2 separate regions of the Homo sapiens genome follow, and region 2 is linked to region 1. The links come from fine-mapping of genetic effects on gene expression. Tissue or cell type: cerebellar hemisphere. Region 1 holds a variant in brackets; the other region holds the start of a gene. All regions are shown on one strand. Distances are between the middles of the regions.

Region 1 (2,685 bases):
CAGGGTAAAAATAATTGATGCCTCATATTAGGCTTAGATTTGGCTGTGTCATGAAATAAATAAAAAGCAGAAGATAAAACATGATAGAAATTTATTTCTTAAAGTATGCAAGTTTAGAAACAGGAATTTCTGGGTTTGGTTGTGGTTTTATGGTATGAAAAGATCCTTATCTTTCTGCTACATTGAACATGGCTTCCATCACCAAGAACACCTTTAAGTGCAGTATAGCTGCAAGAGTTCTAGCCATCATATTTGCATTCCAGGCAGTAGGAAGGAGACAGCTTTCTCTCAGTTGATTCAAATACTTTAATGAACCTTCCTGGAAGTTCCGCACAACACTTGCACTTACATCTCATTGGCAGAGCTTAGGCACACCCCTGTATTTAGTTGAGTATGTCAGGTATCAGATAAATAACTGATGTGACACAAATATATTTTATTTTCCTGAGTTTGGTTTTGTGCGTATGTAATTTTGTCTCTGTTCTTTTCATGTAACATTATATATGGGATGGCAAATTGATTTCACCTCTTTCAGCATTCCAGTTTATTGGTGGGTGGCTGCCTAGAGTTCAGTGTTGCTAAGATTCCAGGGTCTCATCTAGGGTCTCATTGATTAGCAATGTTGGCCGTTGGTGGGAAAGACAGCAGGGGATATTTTAGTATGTTACAGCTCAGATCCTAGTCCAAAGTCTTCATTTTACAGATGAAGAAAAGAAAATGTGATTTGACATGAAAACTTATTTTCTCCTCAGTGCTGGTTGCACTTGACTATTTCCAAAACAAAGACTATAGCCCAAAAACAACTCAAATAGTTATAAGCTTCAGAAGAGCATGTGCTTTTCTTTAAGGCAGTTTCTTTTTCTTTTTTACTTTGTTTTTCTCTTCAACTTCTATTTTAAGTTCCGGGGTACATGTGCAGGTTGTGCAGGTTTGTTACATAGGTAAATGTGTGCCATGGTAGTTTGCTGCACAGATCATCCCATCACCCAGGTATTAAGCCCAGCTTCCATAAGGCAGTTTCTTTTTCAAGTTTCTGTTTGTATCCTGGCCTAGCAATAATAAGATTCTCTGTAGCCCTGGTGTTTTTCTCATTCAACATGAAAGTGACTGACTGTTGATTTCACCAGGGAGAGCTGGGAGGCACCATCACCAATCCCTTGTTGTTGTTTGGCAATTTATTGTCACTTTGGGTCAAGGACCTCAGCATGGAGGTTAAATGGCCCAACACAGAGGACATTTGATTAATTGTTGCTGCTTTTCTTTTTTTACTTCTTCCTAGTCAGTGTCATGTTTGAAACACAAGTGTTTGCATCTTACTAAATTCATATTGCATCATTAGAAAAAAAGTCTCACTTTAGTTTCTTGATAGCCCTGTTAGCAGATCTTTCTCACCTAATTGTGTTCATTTAAGCAGTAAAAGTGCTAAACCGCACAGTGTTAGCATATGTCCACTTAGATATTTT[G/C]GTTTAGTGCCAAAGGCAAGATTTCAATCCTTCTATAAATAAAGGGAGCCTTATTAGCCAGCTTCTCTCCTATTTGTGCCTGCAGGTTTCTATCTTTTTAGAATTTGTAAGATCATGCATCTGCTTACTCTGCAATTCTTAGAAGGTTAGACTAGCAGATCTCAGAGGGAACACAGTGGTTCTCACATGCAATTTCAACCCAAGGGGATATTTGGCATTGTCTGGAGACATTTTTCGTTGTCACAACAGGAGATGGGAAGGAGAGGTACTATTGGCATCTGGTAGGTAGAGGCTAGGAAAAGCTGCTAGATGTCCTACAAAGCCCAGGACAGCCCCCACAACAAGGAAATATTCAGCCTAGTTGTCAATAGCATTGAGGTTGGTAAACCCTGGTGTAGACAGTTCATTCAATAATTAATGCATTATTTGAAGATTAAAAATTTGAGTCAGTTAAATAAATCTTTGGGATGAATCTCTTTCTTCTCCTAATCAAAGAGCTAGTTCAACTGTTAAGCACAGTTAGAGTAACTGATAGGTGCATTTGTAGCCACAAATTATCTCAAGCCCTTGAAGTGTGAACTTGACTTTTTAATTTGATTGTAATAATACTTTCACAGAAATTTTTTAGCAGTTTGCGGAAGTACTGAATTACCAAGAGAAAAGAAAGTAATCATAACCTACTAAGTCCAAATGGGTCCTAGACCTGAAAGAATAGTGGGGATGGGAAGAGGGGTATTTTCAGTGCCAGAGTGTGCCAGATGTGAAGGCCCATGTTAAATGTGCAAAGGGTAGAGTCAGGCAGGCTTATTACTAGCATGTATTCAAAGAACAAAAGTTCAAGCCCATAATTACTCGAAAGATGCAACAATACATTGTTTAGTTTGCTGTGATTTGCATCTGTCTGCACATGATCCTGATCAGTGATTCTCAACCCTCATTGCCCATTAGAATCACCTGGGGAGCTTTTAAAACTACCAGTCTCTGGACCCCCAGCCCCTAGAAATTCTAATTTAATTGTTCTGAGATAAGACCTGGGCATAAGTATTTTTTAAAAGCTCTCTTGGGGACTCTAAACTGCAGCCAAGGTTGAGAACCACTGATCTAGATATATTGGATTCATTGCATCGGTAAAGGAGCTAATTTTTTCTCCTCAATTCTTGTGAATGTCATGATTGGTGCAGGGAACTTTGCACTATTTGAGGTTAAGAGAGGATATCTCCTT
Region 2 (2,685 bases), 220 kb before region 1:
AATCTGAAGAACACCCAGAGCAGTTAACCATCTACAGGGAGGTTGTGAGATACACACACTTTCCCTTCAGAGGTCACCTCAGCCACAAACTGGGCAAATCTGTAGAGTGGAGAGCAGTGACCACCAGTCTGCGACTGGAAATACTCCGGAAGCTAAATAAAACACACCTGCGAGGTCAAACCAAGCAAACCAAGGCAGTGTACTGGTGAGGAGAAAGAGCTGCTAATCCCAAAATTATAAACACACGCGCGCGAACCAGATCTGAACCAAACCCACTCAGCAGCTAGCTCAAAGCTGGGAGCTCCAAACCAGAAGACAAACGCTCAGGGAGCTTCCCCGGCGGAGGGGAAGGCCATTCCATGGCATTTTCTCCGCCATCCCATGGCATTTTCTCCGCCATCCCCGGGCAGCCCCAACCAAGTAGCCGCCACCGGCTCCAACCCATCCCGCTGGGCCACCACCCGTGGGGCCCAGTCGAACCCAGGTGGCCCCAGAGCTGAAGGGCTCCTAGGGTCAGACCAGAGGTCCGTTGCACACCCGGTCATAGAGAAAGGAAGACACATCAGCCGCGCCTCCGGGGCACCGTACTCACCCCCATAACCTACACCCCCGACTGTGCTGCAGCTCCCATCACGGTCTTCCTGCATTCGGGCGACAGCCCCCTGGGTCTTGGAAGCAGCCATTACCCGGCAGAAAAGAAAAGGGAGGGCCGCAGGGCGGGTCGGAGGCGGGGTGGCACCAGTAGAAACGCTACTGGAGGCGAACTCCCCGTCGACGTAATGTTTTCTCCACACCTACGCCGCGCTCTGGACCAATAGGACGCAATCAGTAAAACTGAATCCCCGCCCCGAACCACATTTGCCGCGCCCACTTCCGGGATGGGGAGGCCAAGAACTACAATTCCCAGCGTGCTGCGGGGCCCTGGGACGGGAGGGCTGGACTAGGCGCTGGCGGGCGGGGGTGCGCCGGAGAGTGCCCCGGCGTGTTCGCTTAGTTCAGTGAATCAGAACAATGACTGCGCCGCCGGGTACCCGGGAGCGCGTCGGAGGACTGTGAGCAGCCGCCGCCGGGAGAGCTGCGGGCGGCGCAGTGTCAACGCTGGGCTCGGGAGCCTCCAGCGCAGATCCTGCCCAGCGCCCGCAGCCCGCGCGAAGCCGCTGGGCTCCGGCACTGCAGCGCTGCTCGGGGACTGTGCATTGTTGTGAGCCGGAGAAGGGGCGCGGGGATTACAAAGCCTGAAGACCCCGGAGCCCCTTTAGCCATGTGGATACCTACGGAGCACGAGAAATACGGCGTGGGTGAGTCTCCGCGGGGCGAACTTTTATTCTGCTCTGGCCCGAGCGAGTGCGCATTTCTCGTCCTTGCCCCCGCGCCCCTCTCGCTCCGCCCGGTTGAAAATGCCTAATCCTGGCATCGCGCAGCTGGTACGGGGCTTTGCCGAGCCAGCTCCAGGCAGAGGGCTGCGCACCAGGCTCTCGCCCCGCACCGCCTGCTCGGCGCGCCCCGCACTGGTTCCCGAAGCGCCGGGACAGCTTGGGGGAGCGCGCGGCCGGCCCGCTAGCTTCGGGCTCTGCCTGCGGAGTTTGGAGTGGCGACTGGGCGTGTGTGTGTGTGTGTGTGTGTGTGTCAAGTTGGAAGAGGAGGCGAATGGGGTTTCTCTCCTTCCTTACCCTTCTTCCCCAAAGCGACAGGGAGCTGCAACGGTTCCTCTGGGTGGAGAGGGAGACAACAACACTCGGGCAGAGAGAACACCCCCAAAACAGTAGGGAGGCGCAAACCCTTCCCTCTGGCTCGGATCGACATTCCCGGAGTGTGGAATGTGGCAGGGTCCTGGAGAGAGCCGCTCTGACAAGCTGAGCCCTCTCTGACCCTCCTCCCTCTCTGCGATCCCGGATTTATGGGGTGTGTATGTTGCGGGGCGGGGGCATTGGTAAATTTCAACATCTGCGCCGCTCGGTTCTTTGGTCTTTGGAGAAGAACGGGTATTTCAGCAGTGTTTTTACTTCTGGCCACCCTCTCGACCCCGGGTGAGCGCAGTGGGGGCGGTGTGGCGGTACAGGGCTGCTGAGTGATAAATGGGGAGGGGGATCGGAAAGCCTGGTTCTTGGGGGCAGGGAGATAGCTTTTAGGAAAGCATACCCTGACACTGGCGTTCGGAGAAAAAGGAACAGGATAGCTCTCGCTGTTCTGTGTAAAGGTGAACAACAAAGGACATTAATGTTGACTGATGAATACAGGAGTCTCCCTTCCTTTTCCTCCTCCCATTTCAGGCGGGTTACAGTTCCCGTTTTTGTTGTTTGATTTCAGCTGGGTCGCCCCTTGACAGTTACTCCTTTTAGGGTTGAGACTATTAAGAAGCCAGGCTCTCCGACAAGGCTGCAGCCGGCCAAATGCAATTATAACCTCCCAGAAGGTCTAACAGAAAGCATTATGGATTTTACTAACACTCTTTATTTCCTATAATGCCCTGTTCTGCCGACTGGTGTACTTTGTGTGTGTGTGTGTGTGTGTGTGTGTTTTAAAATTGAGGACAGGTCTAGTGATTTAGGTGATGTGTAGATATCTGCTTATGTTCTAAATTCATTTTCCTGCAATTTAAAACATCTGGAAAGCCTTCCCAGGGAGTCGTAGTCCGAGGGGATTTTTGTTTTTTTTTTTCCCAACTTTGCCTGGGGATAGGACTTT

Alleles and levels. Positions count from the first base shown, and alleles are read on the strand shown. Sizes are in standard deviations (SD) of each study's normalised expression.
As copies of G replace C in region 1, the expression in cerebellar hemisphere of the gene that starts at base 1,001 in region 2 goes down (moderate effect, 0.63 SD a copy in GTEx).

What was found. PIP is the estimated chance that this variant, and not a neighbour inherited with it, causes the effect.
Region 2: it holds the start of DOCK4, and the variant in region 1 is fine-mapped to the expression of DOCK4 in cerebellar hemisphere (GTEx, PIP above 0.99). The same link has a PIP of 0.9 or more in cerebellum.

Annotation. Positions count from the first base shown.
Region 1 is chr7:111,979,731-111,982,415 of GRCh38, reverse strand. The region is part of intron 7 of DOCK4 (dedicator of cytokinesis 4); the gene reads left to right. Among named protein-coding and RNA genes, the nearest start is that of DOCK4-AS1, 170 kb to the right of the region's middle. The variant G/C (reference allele first, on the strand shown) is at 1,464.
Region 2 is chr7:112,204,715-112,207,399 of GRCh38, reverse strand. It overlaps DOCK4 (dedicator of cytokinesis 4), which reads left to right and starts at 1,001. Exons shown (of 53, transcript NM_001363540.2): 1 at 1,001-1,298. The coding sequence starts at 1,262. ZNF277 (zinc finger protein 277) reads right to left here and starts at 705. Exons shown (of 12, transcript NM_021994.3): 1 at 593-705. The coding sequence starts at 683. RefSeq lists an enhancer at 490-609 and a silencer at 780-1,129.